Homo sapiens: one gene and its partners. The protein of the gene in region 4 purifies or fractionates together with the protein of the main gene of each other region. This does not show direct contact. Each region holds a gene or a part of one and is shown on either strand. Other genes may lie near its edges.

The links.
Region 1: the proteins of MARCHF6 (region 4) and SORT1 purify together in Homo sapiens (affinity purification with mass spectrometry, with the first as the bait; one large-scale study listed by BioGRID). This does not show direct contact.
Region 2: the proteins of MARCHF6 (region 4) and VAMP7 purify together in Homo sapiens (affinity purification with mass spectrometry, with the first as the bait; one large-scale study listed by BioGRID). This does not show direct contact.
Region 3: the proteins of MARCHF6 (region 4) and FAF2 purify together in Homo sapiens (affinity purification with western blotting, with the first as the bait; one study listed by BioGRID). This does not show direct contact.
Region 5: the proteins of MARCHF6 (region 4) and ACSL4 purify together in Homo sapiens (affinity purification with western blotting, with the first as the bait; one study listed by BioGRID). This does not show direct contact.

Annotation. Positions count from the first base shown.
Region 1 is NC_000001.11:109,328,326-109,332,430, forward strand, and holds part of SORT1 (sortilin isoform 1 preproprotein), read right to left. Parts: intron 1-4,105.
Region 2 is NC_000023.11:155,894,552-155,898,656, forward strand, and holds part of VAMP7 (vesicle-associated membrane protein 7), read left to right. Parts: intron 1-1,071; coding exon 1,072-1,129; intron 1,130-3,560; coding exon 3,561-3,698; intron 3,699-4,105. UniProt on the Homo sapiens protein: Involved in the targeting and/or fusion of transport vesicles to their target membrane during transport of proteins from the early endosome to the lysosome. Required for heterotypic fusion of late endosomes with lysosomes and homotypic lysosomal fusion.
Region 3 is NC_000005.10:176,486,265-176,490,369, reverse strand, and holds part of FAF2 (FAS-associated factor 2), read right to left. Parts: intron 4,016-4,105; coding exon 3,881-4,015; intron 1,420-3,880; coding exon 1,343-1,419; intron 1-1,342. UniProt on the Homo sapiens protein: Plays an important role in endoplasmic reticulum-associated degradation (ERAD) that mediates ubiquitin-dependent degradation of misfolded endoplasmic reticulum proteins.
Region 4 is NC_000005.10:10,408,702-10,412,806, reverse strand, and holds part of MARCHF6 (E3 ubiquitin-protein ligase MARCHF6), read right to left. Parts: intron 2,669-4,105; coding exon 2,531-2,668; intron 1,475-2,530; coding exon 1,270-1,474; intron 1-1,269. UniProt on the Homo sapiens protein: Endoplasmic reticulum membrane-associated E3 ubiquitin ligase that plays a critical role in mitigating endoplasmic reticulum stress, the regulation of cholesterol and lipid homeostasis, and ferroptosis.
Region 5 is NC_000023.11:109,722,944-109,727,048, forward strand, and holds part of ACSL4 (long-chain-fatty-acid--CoA ligase 4), read right to left. Parts: intron 1-4,105. UniProt on the Homo sapiens protein: Catalyzes the conversion of long-chain fatty acids to their active form acyl-CoA for both synthesis of cellular lipids, and degradation via beta-oxidation. Preferentially activates arachidonate and eicosapentaenoate as substrates.

The DNA of each region.
Region 1 (4,105 bases), on a different chromosome or scaffold from region 4:
TAGCAGCTGCACCATTTTACATTTTCACCAAAAGTGCACCAGGGCTCCAATTTCTCCATATCCTTGCCAACACTTTTTAAAATAGTAGCCACCCTAATCTGTGTGAGGAGATACCTCATTGTGGTTTTGACTTGCATTTTCCTAATGATTAGTGATGCTGAGCCTCTTTTTATATGCTTGTTAGTCACTTCTATATTGTGTTTGGAGAAATGTCTATACAAGTTCTTTGCCTATTTTTTATTCAGGCTATTTGTTTGTTGTTGAGTTGTAGCTCAGTGGCATACTCTTGATTCTGAAATGTACTACAATATCTGGAAGCAAATATTTCCTCATGGGTAACCTGTCTCCGTTTATTTTATTTTTGCATTACATCAAAGCCTCTGAACAATGTTTAAAGGCTGACTCTACACAAATAAACTTGATAAGCACCTGATATACTTCAGACACCGTACAAGATGTGATGGTGGTTCGAAATAAGATCCAGTCTTGTCTTTAAGAAACTTAAAGGCTCCAGGTCCACTCTCACAGACCCAGCCAAGTGGACCCCTGCATCAGGCCAGCCCCTGCAGGCTCAGGGTAGGGCCCACCCCTGCACCAGGCTGGCTCCTGCAGATCTACTTACCGGGCTCCAGGTGTTTCACCTGAAGACCCACTTAAAAGGTCCACCCTAGTGGATTCCACTGCCAGGCCTGCCGCAGAGGACCCAGCCTCCAAGCTACCCCCAAAGACCAAGGCACCAGGCCCACCTACCTGCAGAACCTGTCAGTTGCCCCCCCAAGAATCTCTGGATGAGCTACCTGGTAAGGGCTTCCCCTGCTGAAGCCATCTGTAAAGGCCTATGTGTGTAAGAGGACACATAGGCTAAAAGTAGAGATAAAAAAAAGATATTCCACTCAAATGGTAGCCAAAAGAGAGCAGGGGTGGCTATATTTATTTATTTATTTTTGAGACGGAGTGTCGCTCTGCCACCCAGGCTGGAGTGCGGTGGTGCCATCTCAGCTCACTGCAAGCTCTGCCTCCTGGGTTCATGCCATTCTCCTGCCTCAGCCTCCCAAGTAGCTGGGACTACAGGCGCCTGCCACCACACCCGGCTAATTTTTTGTATTTTTAGTAGAGACAGGGTTTCACCATGTTAGTGAGGACGGTCTTGATTTCCTGACCTCGTGATCCGCCCGCCTTGGTCTCCCAAAGAGCTGGGATTACAGGCGTGAGCCACCATGTCCAGCCGGGGGTGGCTATATTTATATCAGACAAAATAGACTTTAAGTAAAAAACTATCACAAGGGATAAAGAAAGTTACCACACAATGATAAAGGTGTCAATTCATCAAGAGCATATAACATTGGTAAATATAAATGCACTCAACATTAGAGCACCTAAATGTATAAAGCAAACATTAACAGAACTGAAGAAAGAGGTAGACGACAATACAATAATAGTAAGGGACTTCAATACTTACTTTCAATGATAGATCATCCAGACAGAAAACCAGTAAGGAAAGAGCAAACTTGAACAACACCATACAAATGGACCTAACAGACATATACAGAACATTCTATCCAATAGCAGCAGAATATACATTCTTTTCAAGTGCACAGAGAATATTCTCCAGGATAGTGCATATGTTAGGCCACAAAACAAGCCTTAACAAATGTAAGACTGAAATCACCTCAAGTATCCTTTCTTTTTTTTTTGAGACGGAGTCTCACTCTGTCACCTGGGCTGGAGTGCAGTGGCGTGATCTTGGCTCACTGCAAGCTCCGCCTCCCGGGTTCAAACAATTCTCTGCCTCAGCCTCCTGAGTAGCTGGGATTAAAGGCACCCGCTGCCACGCCCAGCTATTTTTTTTTTGTATTTTTAGTAGAGACCAAGTCGGCCAGGCTGGTCTTGAACTCCTGACCTCGTGATCCACCCACCTCAGCCTCCCAAAGTGCAAGGATTATAGGCGTGAGCCAGTGTGCCTGGCCTCAAGTTCTTTTCAACTACAACATTATGAAACTAGAATCAGTAAAGGGAGGAAAATTGGAAAATTCACATGAATGTGGAAATTGAACAACATATTCTTGAACAACCAATGAGTCAAAGGGAAATAAAAAAAACTTGAGACAAATGAAAAGGGAAACACAACATATTAAAACTTAAGGGATGCAGCAAAAGCAGTTCTAAGAAGAAAGTTTATGGTGATAAATGTCTACATTAAGAAAAAAGAAAAATCTCAAAAATCTTAACTTTATACCTCAAGGAACTAGAAAAAGAACAAACTAAGCCCAAAGTTAGCAGAAGGGAGGAAATAATAACAGAGCAGAAATAACTGAAATAGAAGTTAGAAAAATAACAGGAAAGATCAATGAAACTTAGAGTTGTTTTTTTTGACAAGATAAAAAAGTGACAAACTTTTAATTAGAATAAGAAAAAAAGAAAAGACTCAAGTAAAATCAGAAATGTAAGAGGAGACATTATAACTTATACTACAGAAAAAACAAAGGATCCTAAGAGACTACTATGAACAACTATACATCAACAAATTGGATAATCTAGAAAAAAATGGATGAATTTCTAGACATATACAGCTTACCAAGACTGTATCATGAAGAAGAAATAGAAAATCTGAACATACTAATATGAGTAAGGAGGCTCAATCAGTAATCAAAAACCTCCCAACAAGAAAAGCCTAGGACCTGATGGATTCAATGGTGAATTCTAGCAAACTTTCTTCAAAGAAGAATTAAGACCGATCCTTCTCAAACTCTTCCAAAAATTGAAGAGAATGGAACACTTCCAAACTCATTTTATAAGGGTGGTATTACCCTGCTACCAAAACCAGACAAGGACACTAGAAGAAAACAAAATTACAGGTCAATATCTCTGATGAACATAGATGCAAAAATTCTCAACAAAATACTAACAAACTGAATTCAACAGCATATTAAACAGATTATATACCATGATCAAGTAGGATCTATCTGTGGAATGCAAGGATGGTTCAACATATGCAAATCAATAAATGAGATATGCCACATTAATAGAATGAAGGATAGAAATCATATCATCTTGATAAATCCAGAAAAAGCACTTAACAAATTTCAACACCCATTCATGATAAAAACTCTCAATAAATTAGGTATAAAAGGGATATACCTCAACATAATAAACCCATTCATGATAAAAACTCTCAATAAATTAGGTATAAAAGGGATATACCTCAACATAATAAAGGCTATATGTGACAAGCCCACAGCTAACATCATACTCAAACAGTCAAAAGCTAAACCTTTTCCTCTAAGATCAGGAATAAGACAAAGATGCCCATTCTCACCACTTCTGTTCATTATAGTAATGGAAGTCCTAGCTGGAGCAATTAAGTAAGAAAAAGAAATAAAAACAAAAAGCATCCAAACCAGAAAGAAAGAGGTAAAATTGTCTGTCTGCAGGTGACATGAGCTTATATATAAAAATCCTTAATCTTTAAAGACTCCACCAAAAATGTTAAAACTAATAAATTCAAAAAAGTTGCAGAATATAAAATCAACATATAAAAATACAATATACACTAACAACAAACTATCCAAAAAAGAAATCAAGAAAATTTCATCTACAATAGTACAAGAAAAAAACTTAAAAAAAAAAAACAAAAAAAACTTAGGGATAAATTTAACCAAGGAGGTGAAAGACTAAAAACTACAAAACATTGATGAAAGAAATTGAAGATGACAAAAAAAAAAAAAAGGAAATATATCCTATGTTCCTGGATTGGAATAATTAATATTGTTAAAATGTCCATACTACCCAAAGTGATCTACAGATTAAATGTAATGCCTATTATTTTGACTGTCTTTTTTTACTATTATATGGTTATAAATAACCCTCTTTCTGTGACAACACAGAACAATCCAAACACGTTAATTCATCAGATGTTTACTGAGTACCTGCTATATTTCAGGCACTGTTTTAGGTACTTAAGGTACATCAAGAACAAAACAACCAGTTGTGGTGGCTCACATCTGTAATCCCAGCTGAGAGGCTGAGGTGGTAGGATCACTTGAGGCCAGGAGTTCAAGACTAGCTTGGGCAACATGGTGAAACCCCATCTCTACCAAAAAGTACC
Region 2 (4,105 bases), on a different chromosome or scaffold from region 4:
GTTTTACCTCTAGGCCCTTATGCTTGCTGCTTCCTCTCTGGAAAAACTCTTTGCTCACTTTTTTTTGTTGTTGTTGTTTTTTGAAACAAGGTCTCACTTTGTTACCCAGGCTGGAGTGCAGTGGCGCAATCTCAGCTTACTACAGCCTCAACCTCCTGGGTTCCAGCGATCCTCCTGCCTCAGCCTCCCAAGTAGCTGGGACTATAGGCGTGTGCCACCACACCTGGCTAATTTTTGTATTTTGTGTACAGACGGGGTTTTGCCATGTTGCCCAGGCTGGTCTTGAACTCCTGAGCTCAAGCGATCTGCCCGCCTCAGCCTCCCAAAGTGCTAGGATTACAGGCATGAGCCAGCCACCACGCCTGGCCTTTCGCTCACTCTTTACCTTGCCATCTGTTACTTATTCTTCAGGTCTTAAATCAGACATCACTTGTTCTGGGAAGTCTTTCTGGTTACCCTTTGGCAAATCTCCATTTCGTGCCTCATCTATTAATGTGTCCCCAGAGCACCATGTACTGCCTTTAACTTTCCTGTCATCCTGTTTGCCATGCTGCACTGTAATTCCTTACACTGTGATCCCTATGAAGACTGGGACTTGGTGGTTTTGCTTTTTTGTATCCTCAGCATCCAGCACAGTAACTAACTCAAAGTGGATACTCAAATGTTGAGAATTTGGTAGAAAAGATGTTTGCTTTAAGAACTTAGGAAAAAGCAAAGAAAACCATATGGCCTATTGGGGGTTAATCTTAATTACATCCTCCTCCTAAGATGTCATCTCTTGTTCATGCTTTAAGAGTCCAATTATGCTTTTGCAGCTATCGTTCTAATGGGTAATACACATGCTGTTGTGCTATGTAGCTAGAATAGAGATCTTTTTATTTCTTATGTACTTCTATCAGTTTGACTTGAAAGAAACAGGTATATTGGGAAGGGGAAGAGGGAGAAGAGACTGTATCCGTAAGTAATATGGTGACATTGGCAGTACTGAACGTGCTTATACATAGATAGAAGATAGAAGTAAAAGTGATGTTGCTTATAACCACAGTAAGTTTTATATCTTTTATTCTACAGTTATTTGTTTCATTACATCTGCCAAGACAGGATTGTATATCTTTGTATCACTGATGATGTAAGTAACTTGAAGACATATTGCTATTTAACTATGTGTACTGTTAATACAGCCAGTTCTTAATTATCTATACCAGGGGTCCCCAACCCCCAGGCTGCAGACCGGTACAGGTCTGTGGCTTGTTAGGAACCAGGCCACATAGCAGGAGGTGAGTGGCCTATGAGCATTACCACCTGAGTTCTGCCTCCTGTCAGATCAGCAGCAGCATTAGATTCTCATATGAGTGTGAACCCTGTTGTGAACTCTGCATCCGAGGGATCTAAATTGCATGCTCCTTAGGAGAATCTAATGCCTGATGATCTGAGGTGGAACAGTTTAATCCCGAAACCATTCACCCTCCCCCAGTCCTTGGAAAAATTGTCTTCTACAAAACCGGTCCCTGGTGCCAAAAAGGTTGGGGACTGCTGATCTGTACCTATAGTGGGCAAACGTGATGCGAACTTTACATAGCTGGAATTGTTAATATTTTGCATTTGTCATATAGAGCAGCAAATGTTAAGAAAACTTGATACTGGGGTATGTGCAAATCAACTCAATTTTGGTAGAGTTTTAGCTTAGCCTCTTGCAACTTCTATATTTATTCTATTTTGTAGTGAGAATTGATGTTCATAATTATAATTCTTTGATATCAAAACCTCTCAAAAATTGTTTACGTGGAATGTTAAATTAGATAGCATCATTTCTTCTATCAGTAGTTAATGAATCCTTTAATGTATGTGAACTTTGGAAAAACAAAATTACAATACATTATGATCAGCTATATAAACCTGTAGTTTACATTGGTTAGGTATGACTGTTTGTCGGCTCTCAGCCCAAAATTCTCAGTAACTTAATGATGTCATTAAGGTCCTTTCTCTTCTCTGCTTATCTCCGTGTCTCCTTCTTCCCAGACAGGTTGCCATTATGGTTTCGTAGAGCTACATACTTATTTATTCATGTCCGGAGTAGAGGGACTGTGTCTTCTTGAGTGTCTTATTGTAGGAATGAGGAAGCTTTTCCCAGCTGCATGCCCTCCCCTCCCCCTGCTTTCAAAGTGAACTTCCTTTCATGTCTTATTGGCTGCATGCTCATTTCTAAACTGCCTACTGGCAAAGAGACTTGGAATTGGCATGGTTGCCATAGATCAGGGTTCCTAATCTTTATTGTATCACAGACTCGTCACTTGTGGGACACTCCCAGAATGTTTTTGTTTTCTTTTTTTAATTTTCCTTTTCCAGAATGCTTTTAAATGTATAAAACACACACAATTCTAACAAAGCCAATTATATTGAAATATATATATATATAGTATTCAAAATATTTTAAAAACTTGATGTAGTAATATATATGCTTCTTTATGAACTCATTAACAAGATCTAGTCATAGGTCTAATAACTAATAGTCTTGATGTGATGGGTGTTGACAGTATTTTGAGATATCTGTAACTGTGATGGTATACAAAAAAAGATTTCTGTTGGTGACAGTTACAGGTACTGTTTAATACTACCCCGATTATGAATATACAACCTATATTCACAATTGAAATATAAGTTAACGATTGATAAAAATAATGATGTGATTTTCTTTTTTTCTATCCAAGTTCAAAGGCCCCTTGAATTTGGACCATTGACCCCAATTTAAGAACCCTTGGCTTAGACTAAGCATCTTGGGTGAAAGGGAAATGACTGTCAACCATAGTGATCATCACAATGATTTTTATCTCTGGCTTCACAATATTTTCCAAAAGTACGAAAAAATCTAGCTATATGTGAAATGACTGATGTGAAACAGCTTGGAATAGAAGGAAAATACTAATGAAATCTGGGATAGTTAGAGTCGAGCCTCATATTTCTTGAGCTATAATTTGATACACACATATACATGTATACATAAACACACATACACACATTCATTTTTTTCCTCTAAGGTATTCTTACAGAGAACACACATACTTTTTGGCTGGCTGGGATTAGACATGAGTATGTCACTTGATCTTTTCAAATATACCACCACTATTGAAAAAATTCGATTTGAAGTTAATATCAGTAGTAGTATCTGTATGTGTGAAAGACTCTATGATTATTATGGGATTTATTAAACATATTCTTGTGCTGGGCCTTCTAATAGATCTTATGAAATATATGGAGGAAGTAAAATTCAATTCCTGATGTCAAGAAGTTGATAACCTAGGTATCATTATCTTCAGTTGTCAATGACCAGATATATCTGGATTCATTCTCAGCTCTTTCATTTACTAGTTGTTGGACCTTTGGACAAGTTAGTTACTTTTTCAGAGCCTTCCTTTACTTATCTTTAAGATAGGATCAATGCTAGTTCCTCCTCAGATAATCATTGCTCAGTAAATGTTAGCTGTTTTTTATTGTTGTTCTTAATCACTCACATCATCTTTGTTTACTTTCTAAATGTGAGTTCTGTGTTGATCTCTTTTCAGGATTTTGAACGTTCCCGAGCCTTTAATTTTCTGAATGAGATAAAGAAGAGGTTCCAGACTACTTACGGTTCAAGAGCACAGACAGCACTTCCATATGCCATGAATAGCGAGTTCTCAAGTGTCTTAGCTGCACAGCTGGTAAGATCTTTCTCAGGATAAGGTATTTTGATTTATATCTTCTTCATTACCTTCAAACACTATGAATCTAGGGGGCCCTGACCTGCAATATAGTTTTCTGATTGTGTTACTGTAAGCCAACATAATAAAACTTCCCTGATTAAAAAAAAAATGTAAAGGGGCCATTTTAGGGTAGAAAACAGTGATAGTCTTTATTATCTCTATTAATAGTGGTCACAGTGTCTCATGATTGGAAGAGCATTAAAGATCATCTAGTTGAACTACCCATCTGATGCTTAAATGTGTTCAGCATGCCAAATGATCTTTTAAACTATACGTAAACCTTCTACCCTTCCATGAGGGAAATTTAATTTTCTAACAACCCAAATTAATAATTTGAAACTCTCCTCATCTGTATGAATCCCTAA
Region 3 (4,105 bases), about 170 Mb from region 4:
TGACATGCTAAGAAGTTGTGCCCCACTCATTTTCTTTTCTTTTTCTTTTTTTTTTTTTTGAGACGGAGTCCCACTCTCTCACCCAGGCTGGAGTGCAGTGGTGCGATCTAGGCTCACTGCAAGCTCCGCCTCCCGGGTTCACGCCATTCTCCTGCCTCAGCCTCCTGAGTAGTTGGGACTACAGGCACCAGCCACCGCGCCCGGCTAATTTTTTGTATTTTTAGTAGAGACAGGGTTTCACCGTATTAGCCAGGATGGTCTTGATCTCCTGACGTTGTGATCCGCCCACCTCAGCCTCCCAAAGTGCTGGGATTACAGGCGTGAGCCACAGAGCCCGGCCAGTTGAGCCCCACTCATTTTCTGGCCTTGGACCCTCTGTAGCTTCCAATGATGAGCTCTTTTAATGGTACATGAAGGAAGCTAGAAGAAAGGTGAAGGTATGAAGCAAGTGGGTATATACATAAAAGGGTTCCAGTGTTTGCAACCTAGGGGCTGCCAGAGCAAAGTGAAAAGGTACCGAAGCTGCCAGGCATGGTGGCTCATGCCAGCAATCCCAGCACTTCGGGAGGCCAAGGCAGGTGGATCACTTGAGGCCGGGAGCTCAAGATCAGCCTGGCCAACAAAATGAGACTCCATCTCTACTGTCTCTACTAAAAATACAAAAATTAGCCAGGCGTGGTGGCGCATGCTTGTAATCCCAGCTATCTGGGAGGCTGAGGTATGAGAATCGCTTGAACCCAGGAGGTGAAGGTTGCAGTGAGTCGAGATGGTGGCACTGCACTCTAGCCTGGGTGACAGCGACAGAGCAAGACTCTGTTTCAAAAAAAGAAAGAAAAAGAAAGAAAAGGTGTAACAGGAGTGTCTAGGGAGGTCCAACTATTGTGGGAGGAATCAAGGGCAAACTGGGTAATCTCAGAGCAAGAGAATTTGTTGGGATTGTGAGTAGTCAGGTGGAGGAGAAGTAGTTGAGGAAGAAAGTTCTAAGGAGTGTGAAGCTAGGAGATGATAGTGGTTAGAAAGGAAAGGGTGTGGACATCAACTAGGAAGTGTAGAGGTGACAAATATGGTGGGGGGGGGAGGGGGAGACAAATAAATATAGTCAGACTGGTTTTTGCAAACAAAAGGTAAGACTAATTTAAAAACAATTCCATTTCACAATGCCTGCCAATGCTTCAACAATTTAAAATACTTGTATGTTGTATTAAAAGACAGTTCGGGAAGTGTATTCCATCTCATGACAAATTGGTAAGTCAACATTGATAGAGCATAAAGCTTATTTTGGCCTAAATTTCAGCTCCAAAGTCTTACTATTCTACTAATACATAAATCCAAAGGTACATACCTAAATATATCAAGTATCGTGTAATAGGTAAACCGGAATGGAAGCATTATCAAGTAATAACCCCATCCAAGCAGCCCCTGAAAGTCCAAAAACAAAGTTAGAGACAATTCTCTCAATCCCTAATATTTTATCAAATGGCTAGGTCAGATTTTCTCACTCTTTTTGGTCCTTCCATGTGATTTGTTCCTCTAAAGTACAGTTCCTTCTTCCTGGCCACCTCATCCTTCTAAGTGCCACCATCTTTGGTCTTATTTCATCTTACTATCATTTTTTTTTGCAGAATTTTTGTATTAAATCTGCTTTAAGGTCCAGAGCTGTATCTCCTGCCTGTAATCCCAGCACTTTGGGAGGCTGAGTGGGGCAGATCACCTGAGGTCAGGAGTTTGAGACCAGCCTGGCCAACACGGTGAAATCCCATCTCTACTAAAAATACAAAAATTAGCCAGGCATGGTGGCATGCACCTGTAGTCCCAGCTACTCAGGGAGGCTGAGGCAGGAAAATTGCTTAAACCCAGGAGGCGGAGGTTGCAGTGAGCTGAGATCGCGCCACTGAACTCCAGCCTGGGGGCAGAGCAAGATTCTGTCTCAAAAAAACAAACAAACAAATAAAAACCAAAACTGCCTTAATACTTATTTTTGGCAGCTACTTATAGACTTGTCAAATTCAATTGCAAATTAATGTTCCCCAAATGATACACACTCATTCTTTCCTTTTTAGATTTACACATCAAAATATGGTATACAGAAATAAGCCAGGCTTGGTGGCTCACGCCTGTAATCCCAACACTTTGGGAGGCTGAGGCGGATGGATCACCTGGGGTCAGGAGTTCGAGACCAGCCTGGTCAACATGGTAAAACCCTGTCTCTACTAAAAATACAAAAATTAGCTGGGTGTGGTGGCTCACACTTGTACTCCCAGCAATTTGGGAAGCCAAGGCAGGCAGATCACTTGAGGTCAGGAGTTTGAGACCAGCCTGGCCAACATGGTGAAACCCTGTCTCTACTAAAAATACAAAAATTAGCCAGACGCGGTGGTGGGCGCCTGTAATCCCAGCTACTCAGGAGGCTGAGGCAGGAGAATCGCTTGAACCTGGGAAGCTGAGGTTGCAGTGAGCTGAGATCACACCACTGCACTCCAGCCTGGGCAACAGAGGGAGATTCTGTCCCAAAACAAAACAAACAAACATAAAAACCTAAAATAATGTATATAGAAATAGCAAGAAAGATAATCACTATTACTAACCTTGGACATTGGTATATAAACATTAAATAATTATATTAACCACAATGACAAATCCCCATATAGCTGCTTATCTTAGTAATAATGCTAATTATTATTGCTGTTATTAATTATTAAAACTAGCATACATCCAGGGCTCTATAGTTTATAAAGCATTTCATAGTTGTCACATTGTGTTAACCTGAGACACTTTCTGTGTCTGTGGCCAGGAAGCTCTGGAGCCCCATGGCTGACATGGGAATCTGCTACTGTACTTCAGAAAACCACAGAGCACTACTTAGAAACATGTTTTAAAACATCAAGTAGGCCAGGCACAGTGCCTCAAGCCTGTAATTCCAGCACTTTGGGAGGCTGAGGTGGGCAGATAACTTGAGCTCAGGAGTTCAAGACCAGCCTGGGCAACATAGCAAGACCCCATCTCTACAAAAAATACAAAAATTAACCAGGATGGTGGCGCACACCTGTAGTCCCAGCTACTTAGGAGGCTGAGGTGGAGGACTGCTTGAGCCCGGGAGGTCTAGGCTGCAGCGAGCCAAGATCATGCCACTGCACTCCAGGCTGGGCGACAGAGTGAGACCCTGTCTCAAACAGAACAAAACACAACAAAAATCAAGTACTCCACAAAAAGGCTTGATGATGGAGTAAATTCTAACTGCTGCAATGTTAAAGGGAGTGTTTTCTTAGGATTCTAAATGCAAGTATAAAAGTATAAGAGGTGAGTATAACCCCAGGGGTAAGAAAAAGAAAGTCCAAGCAGTTCTTTAGAATTCATTATCAGTGTACACATCTGACTTCCTTCAATAGACTGTGAGAAATTGAATTTGAAATGGGAAGACTGGCTCTTTATTCATGTCTGGATCCCTAGTAGCAAGATACCAGGTTATTGGAGTACTCTTAAATGTCTGTCAAATTTAAGTGAACCACCTCCTTGCTACTAGCCCTTCAAGGCTAATTTCAAAGACGTGGCCAAAGCTCCTACAAAGATTCCATATACTTCCTCAAAACTGGTTTAAGATTAAGTAAACTGAAGCAACAAAGAACTTGAGTAAACAAATTGTAACTTAAGAGGCAGAAAACACTCTCCAAATAACTGGCAAAGAAAAGAAAAAAAAAATGAGTAGTTTCTGTAACAATTCCTTGAGGAATCAAGGCAAAATAATACACCCAACGGGCCAAGTCTAACTAACAGGTTTACATTCTAAATATTTGTTTTGCTCCTGTCACAGGGAGATCAATATAACCAAGTGGATATACTTATAAATAAAAAAGGGGGAAATCCCAGCTATGAAATAACTTGCCCTTGGTTGAGGTCTTGAGACAACATAGCTGTAGATCCTGTGGTCAGCTGTATTAACCTGCAGGGGTCGTGATGGAGGTGGGTTGAAAACACTAGGTACGCCCTCTTGCTCATTCAATCTGTCCTGTACAGCAGCCTGAGAAGGAAAACGGAGTGGCAAGAGTTTCAGCGATGCTCAAATCAACCAACAACAAGAGGTGAGGCAACTATTGCGTGGTATTCCAAA
Region 4 (4,105 bases):
ACTAGGAGTTTGAGAACAGCCTGGGCTACATAGCAAAACTCCATTTCAACAAAAAATATAAAAATTAGCCAGGTGTAGTGGCATGCACCCATGGTCCCAGCTAATCGGACGGCTGAGTAGGTAGGAGGATCGCTTGAACCCAGGAGGTTAAGGCTACAGTGAGCCATGATCGCACACTGCAACCAAGCCTGGGCAACAGAGCAAGACCCTGTCTCAAAAACAAAACAACACAACTCTCTTATCTGCAATTCTAAGCCCACCATGCCTAATGTGCCCTAGTCCTGACATATTCCTGGAATGCCCTTCCCACTTCCTTTTTTTCACTCTCTGACAGGTCTCTCAATGTTTAAGACAGTTCAGGCACCACCTATTCTAGGAAGATTCCTTTGGGTCCATATTAAGAACAAGTGGTTCTTGATTGAAGGAGTCACAGCACCCACTGTAAACACCAGCATGAGAGCTCAAATCTGCCACTGTCTTTCTCATCTGAGTAGACTGTAAGCTCTTTCTGAGCAAAGACCACGTATGCTCTCTATATCCTCACAGACACTGAAAATATCAATCATAGACACTTAAGACATGTTTGCTGAATGACTGAACACATGTGACCCACAGTAATCTACAAAGGTATAATAATGACTATTTTTACAAAAAAAGAAATGTGAGGCTGAGAGGTTAAATAACCTGCCCAAGTTTTAAAATGATCAGACTCACAAGCCCATGTCATTATTAAAGGGCATTTTAAAATAACAGACTTGATATAAATGATGACTTCACTGTAATCATATAGCAGTCATCAGCTTACATTTCTGACAAAATTCTGAGGTGCACAAAGATTGATCACTTGCTAACGAACATGTAATAGGCACATTCTTAACCAATATTGCCTTCAGTTTCCTTAGCTATAAACATGAAATTATCGCCTACACTTTGCAGTATTTGAGTGGAGATTAAATGAGAAAACATCCAAATGCCCATTCTAGTTCCTGACACACTGTTGAAATGTATCAATAATGTTAGTTTCTTAATTACTCTAGAGTCTTTTCCTCTTAAATAGGGAGCAAGAGCCCAGGGAATCCCAACTCTTTGACTTATCTCTAAAATTTGATAAACTTACCTAATCATTTACGTTACATAATGAGGGTAATAAAATGTGGAACATGTCTACACAGAGGACTGCATACTAATAGCACCAATTCTCAACAGCAATTTGGAGAACAAAAAAACCAAAAAAACCTCTATATGTGATTAAGTCTGTATAGCACCTACCCTGAGTGGAAAATTTAAAGGTCGGCGGTAAGGCTGAAAGCCAACAGGCCCTCCCTGCTGGAGTATGGCTTGGTGGGCTGCATGAAGGCCTTCTCCCACCACAGGAATAGCGTTGTTATTTCGAGCATGCTGATTATTGTTAACTTGTTGATTTGCACTGTTTTCATTTTCTTCCTGGTCTCCCAATAAATAAGAATGAAGATCCCTGTGCAAAAATTACATCAGTAACAAGTCTCACTTCAGGTCACAATAAAATGGCAGACATGACACTCATTTTCTTCATATTTACTACTAAGGGTAGAAAATGTATAATACAGAATTTGTGCACCACATTATTACCTAATTTTGGTCTAAATGTTTGTACCCACTTTAAATCAAACCTTTCTAATGTTAATGAACTTGTAGGATATCCCATAAATTCAACCTATTTTACGTTTTCTTCAGCCAGTATCTGAGAAGAAATCAGTAACTGAAAGAAAAAAGTACAATGTACAAGATACTTACAAGTACACTTGTAAGTACAAGAGGTAAGTACTTACAAGCACAAGGTGTAAGTACATACTTACAATGTACAATATTGTTAAGGATCTACAGGAGGAAAAGAAAAACTTCTTATCTTCTCTACAGATGACTACTGCAACATGTAGCTACAAGCTATAAATTTGTAAAACCTCCAAGCTATAAATCAGTTAGGTCAGAAATGAGACTGGGGGAGGAAGCAGTTAGAGGACGACAGATGTTCAAGCAAATATAACCAAATCTGTACTTCACCTTTAAGATACCTACAAGATGCCAAACTGAAAAACTTTTAAAGATTCAACTTTTAAATAAATATAGAGTATATAAAGCTTGGGGAAAAAAATGCAACATGTTCACTAGAAGATTGAGAAATCAAATTTGAGAAGAACCCATTTCCCAGGTTATGAGCACTAAATAAAGGTAAGTTAGTTGGTCTAAATAAAGGTAAACTGGTTTGTTTTTAATGCACTAAAAAAAAAAAAGACATTTACTCCATGAAAGCTGGACCAGCAGCAAACTTCTATAAGAGGGCAAAAAGATGTATATATTCTCCATGAAAGGATGGACAATAAGAAAAAAAAATTTCATTTAGAAGTATTATATGCAATTGCAAATATTACTAAATTGTCTCTTATTAAAACTAATTTTTCTTGAGTGGGCCATGGAACATACTTTTTCCAGAAAGGTTATTCCATAGTCACAAATGACATGCATGTCCAAGGAGTCAGCTGCCCATACTCACAGCAAGTATCCGGCGGTCACAGTCCACGCTCGCACCAGCCCCTTCAGCCACTGCCTCGTGTGTCCCTGTTCGAGTAATGCTGGCAAGACAACCTGAAGCAGAAGCAGCTCGAGGGACAGTTCACTCACTGGAGCATCACTGAAAGAGGCAGGATTTATAATGTGAATTGTATTTTGCATATGACTACTATTTAATGGGATTACAACGCAACTTCTTAAGAATCTAATAAACTTACTGTCTTTATTACCTCTCCTTTCATTCTCTCTCCAACTCAGTGAGGCTTTCCCCACAAACTCCACCAAATTGTTTCTGATAAGGGTCACCAAAGACTTTCATTTTGCTAAACTGATGGGTAGGTCTTGGTTCTCTCCTCACTTGCTATATTAGTAGCATGTTACACAAAAGGTCACTCCTTCCTTTGACACCTCACATCCAAACAGCTAGAGAATCCTTTTGACTGTACCTTAACAATATCCTAAAAATTTCTCAAGGCCTCCACTGCTACCTCCCCTTCATCTCTGCCACCCTCACCTCTCACCAGGATCATTGCATTATCCTCCCAGCTGGCTTCCTGTTTCTGACCTAGCCACTCCAACCCAGTTTCCTCTCATCACAGCAGTCAGAATGATCCTCTTTAAACCTAAGTTAGATCACTCCTTTGCTCAAAGCTTTCCAAGAGCTCCTCAATTCACTCAAGCAAAAGCCAAAGTGCTTATGTCGTGTAAGACTCTCTAGGAGGTGGCTCTCCATGACCTTTCTGACTTCAGGGCCAATTCTTTGCCTTCCTCCTCCTACTACAGACAAACTTGCCTCCCTGCAGATCCTCAAACAGACCTGGGTGCCACTGCACCTACTTTCTGCAAGAATATTCTGCCTTCAGGGATCCACGTGGCTCACTCTCTCAACTCCTTCAGGGCTTTCCTCAACTGTCACCCCCTCAGGTCTTTACCAGTCACTATTCCTAAATTGTAACCCCATCCTGCCCACTTTCTATACCCTTACTGGCATTTTTTCTGCCACTTTAAATAATCAGGATATAAGTATTTTCCAATTCTAATTTAATAAAATACAAATTTGAGATTTTACTATGTGTAGAGTAAACCTTTTATTTTTGAACAATCATGTTCCTATGCAAAGCATTAAGATCCAAATAAGAGGCTGGGCGCAGTGGCTCACACCTATAATCCCAGCACTTTGGGCGACCAAAGTGGAAGGATTGCTTGAGGCCAGGAATTCAAGACCAGCCTGGGCAATATAGTCAGACCCTGTCTCCACAAAATATTTTTTTAAATTAAAAAAAGAGAGACAGAGAGAAAAAGACCTAAATAAGACATGATTTCTGCCATCTGGGATAAAACAATACATATTTGTAAAGTAATGTAACAAATGCTATAAAAAGAAATACAACGATGAAGACAATTTTAAAGGATGGAATGATGGCCAGGCACAGTGGCTCATGCCTGTAATCCTAACATTTTGGGAGGCTGAGGCAGGCAGATGGTTCAAGCTCAGGAATTCAAGACCAGCACAGGCAACATGGTAAAACCCGGTCTCCCCAAAAAATACAAAAATTAG
Region 5 (4,105 bases), on a different chromosome or scaffold from region 4:
TAAGCACAAGCATATATACCAAAAAGTTGACAATGGATGTTTCTGGGTATGAAATTACTGTTTTTATTCTTTTTTATACTTATATTTTTGGTGTCAAAAATTTAGAAAATACCAATACTTCATCGATAGCAGAAAACATCATTTTTTTAAAAACCTGAGTGTTCAGTACAAGGCATTAATTACATTTACAGTAGAGTGTTGTTGTAGAATGAAGGAATCCTATTATAAGCATCCTCCAGTGTGCAAATGTTTAATATTAGTAATCTGCATACCTACTATCAAAATAGTAATTGTATTTTGCTATAATAGTAATCTGCATACCTACTATCAAAATTGTAATTGTAAATTATAATATATAATATAGAATTGTACAGAGAAAAAGTAAAACTATACTGCCCTCCTCTAACACCACTCTCTTTTCCTCTAGGGATAATTACTCTTGATGTGTATCAATCAGATTGTTTTGTATTACCCATACACATGATAAGGGTTTATTTTTAGATAAGTGGAATTATGGTATACAACTGTTCTTTGACTCCCTCCCCCTCTCTTCCCCTGCTTAACAGCATACTTTGGAACTCCTATGTCAGTGTATATATATGTCTAACCAAGAGGCTTTTCTTCTTTTTTTATTTAATAACTCAATGGTATTCCACAGTATAACTTACCATTATTTAAATCATTCCCTACTGATGGATATTTAGGATACTGCCAAATTTTCACAGTTACAAACAGTTTCACTGCAGCGAAACCTTATACATAGTTTTATACACATGTAATATTTCCCTAGAATTGTTTTCTAATAAAACTATTGGGTCAAAATGTATGCACATTTAAAAATGAGATGATTTTGGTATTCTTCAGCAAAGAGTTATACATGTGAACTCTCATTAACAGTGTATGCAAATGCCTATTTGTTAAAAGTGGATATTAAGTTCTTGCCAATCTGTCTGGTGAAAAACGGTTTACATTTCCCTAATAACCAGAGTCAATTTGAACATCTTTTCTTTTTTATTCACCAGTACTTCTTTTCCTGGGAAATGCCCATGTATAATCTTCTGCCACTTTTTGCTTTTTGTAGTGGGTACCTTTCTCTTATTGATCTTTAGGAGCTCTTTATATATTATGGATATTATGCAGTAGAAACCCTTTTATCTAATGTGATTTAGAACAATTGGTTATGTAATTTAAAAGGTTAATTTCAGGTAAACGATCATAAAAATATGTATGGCAAACATTTCACCTTCCTTTCATCAGTGGTATATATATACTCATTCAACAAACTTTGTGTGTGTGTGGTTTTGGTTTATTTATTTTTGGGGGGCTTTTTTGTTTTTTTGTTTGTTTCTGAGACAGGGTTTTGCTCTGATGCCCAGGCTGGAATGCAGTGGAGTGACCTTGGATCGCTGCAACCTCTGCCTCCCGGGCACAAGCTATCCTCCTGCCACAGCCTCCCAAGTATCTGGGACTACAGTTGTGCATCACCATGCCTGGCTAATTTTTGTTTTTGTTTTTTTGAGACAAGGTCTCACTCTGTCACCCAGGGTGGAATGCAATGACGTGAGTGATCATAGTTCACTACAACCTCCACCTACTGGGCTCAAGCAATCCTCCCACCTCAGCTTCCCCAGTAGTTGGAACCATAGGCACATGGCACCATGCCCAACTAAATTTTTGTATTTTTTGGGCTAGGCGTGGTGGCTCACGCCTGTAGTCTCAGCACTTTGGGAAGCTGAGGCAGGCAGATCACTTGAGGTCAGGAGTTTGAGACCAGCCTGGCCAACATGGCGAAACCTCATCTCTACTAAAAATACAAAAATTAGCCGGGTGTGGTGGTGGGCACCTGTAATCCCAGCTACTCGGGTGGCTGAGGCAGAAGAATCGCTTGAATCTGTGAGACGGAGGTTGTAGTGAGCCGAGATCATGCCACTGCACTCCAGCCTGGGCGACAGAGCGAGATTCCGTCTCAATAATAATAATAATAAAAATTTTCTGTAGAGATGGGGTTTCACCATGTTGCCCAGGCTGGTCTCAAACTCCTGGCCTCAAGAGATCTGCCTGCCTTGGCCTTCCAAAGTGCTGGGATTACAGGCATGACGCACTGTACCTGACCTGGGGTTTTTTTTGTTTTTGTTTTGTTTTGTTTTTTTATTTAAAGACAGGATCTCACTCTGTCTCCCAGGTTGGAATGCAGTGGTGTGATCATGACTCACTGCAACCTTGAACTCCTGGCCTCAAGCAATCCTCCTGTCTCAGCCTCCTGAGTGACTGGGGACTACAGGTGTGTGCCACCACACCCAGCTATTTTTTTTTTTTTTTTTTGAGACAGGGTCTTGCTATGTTGCTCAGGCTGGTCTTGAACTGGCTTCAAGCAATCCTCCTGCTTTGGCCCCCTAAAATGTTGGGATTACAAGCATGAGCCACCATGCCAGCCTCAAACTTTCTATATGGGGCCAAGAGGCCAAGACCTTTTTCTCTAACTCCAGGCCCATTGATTTTACATTTGACAAGTAATGTGAGTATAAAACCCTTTTAGATGGCTGGTGCGGTGGCTCACACCTATAACCCCAGCACTCTGGGAGGCCAAGGCGGGCGGATCACGAGGTCAGGAGATCGAGACCATCCTGGCTAACACGGTGAAACCCTGTCTCTACTAAAAATACAAAAAAATTAGCCAGGTGTGGTGGAGGGCGCCTGTAGTCAGGAGAATGGCGTGAACCCGGGAGGTGGAGCTTACAGTGAGCCGAGATCACGCCACTGCACTCCAGCCTGGGCAAAAGAGCGAGACTCCATCTCAAAAAATAAAATAAAATAAAATAAAATAAAACTCTTTTAGATTTTTATATTTTTTCCACGTATCTTGTATAGTCATCTTACCCACATTTAAGCGGACAGTATTTTTTTTTGCAACTTGTTTTCATTAACTCTTCTCAAAACAATTTGTTTCATCATAATGAATCTAATGTAACCATCACCCAGCTTCAACAGTTATTCATATGTGCTGAATTGTGTTTCTTCCATACTACCCACAACCCACCTCCATCCCTCACCCCTTGTATAATGTTAAGCAAATCCCAGACATCATATTATTTCATTTGTAAATTTTCAGTAAAAAGAACTCCAATCTCCCCCACTCATATATTGTCAGGTTACAACATATTAAACAAATTACCTTTTAAAAACAAATACAAGCAGGCTTAGCACGGTGGCTCACGCCTGTAATCCCAGCATTCTGGGAGGCTGAGGCAAGTGGATCACCTGAGGTCAGGAGTTCAAGACCAGCCTGGCCAACATGGCAAAACCCCGTCTCTACTAAAAATACAAAAAAAATTAGCCAGGCATGGTGGTGGGCACCTATAATCCCAGCTACTCGGGAGGCTAAGGCAGGAGAATTGCTTGAACCCAGGAGGCAGAGGTTGCAGTGAGCCGAGATTGCACCATTGCACTCCAGCCTGGGCAACAAGAGCAAAACTCCATCTCAAAAACAAACAAACCAACCAACAAACAAAAAAACAAATACAACCAACATATACAGGTTTAGTAGTAAAAAAATTTACTGTACTGGTAGGTAAACAAGCACGCTGGAGTACTGGAGATCAACCAACTAATACCAAGTATTCAGTGTACACTGTATTTTACAAAGGAAATAAAAATTATTCAATGTGGTGAGTCAATTAAGTGGAGGTCAATTAAAGCTTCTAATGCATATGTAGAAGCTTTTTCATTTTTATTTATTTTATTTATTTATTTTTTGAGACAGGGTCTCGCTCTATCACCCAGGCCAGAGTGCAGTGGTGCAATCATAGCTCTCTGCAGCCTCGACCTCCCAGGCTCAAGGGATCCTCCCACTTCAGCCTCTGGAGTAGCAAAGACTACAGGCACATGCCACCATGCCTGGCTTTTTTTGTTGTTTTTTGTTGTTGTTGTTGTTGTTTTGTTTTTTTTGTTTTTTTTTTAGAGACAGGGTCTCACTATGTTGTCCAGGCTGGTCTCAAACTCCTGGGCTCAAGCAATCTTCCCACCTTGGCCTCCCAAAGTGCTGGGATTATAGGCGTGAGCTGCAGTGCCCGGCCATCACTTGTCTTTTTAACTGGGTTATGATGTC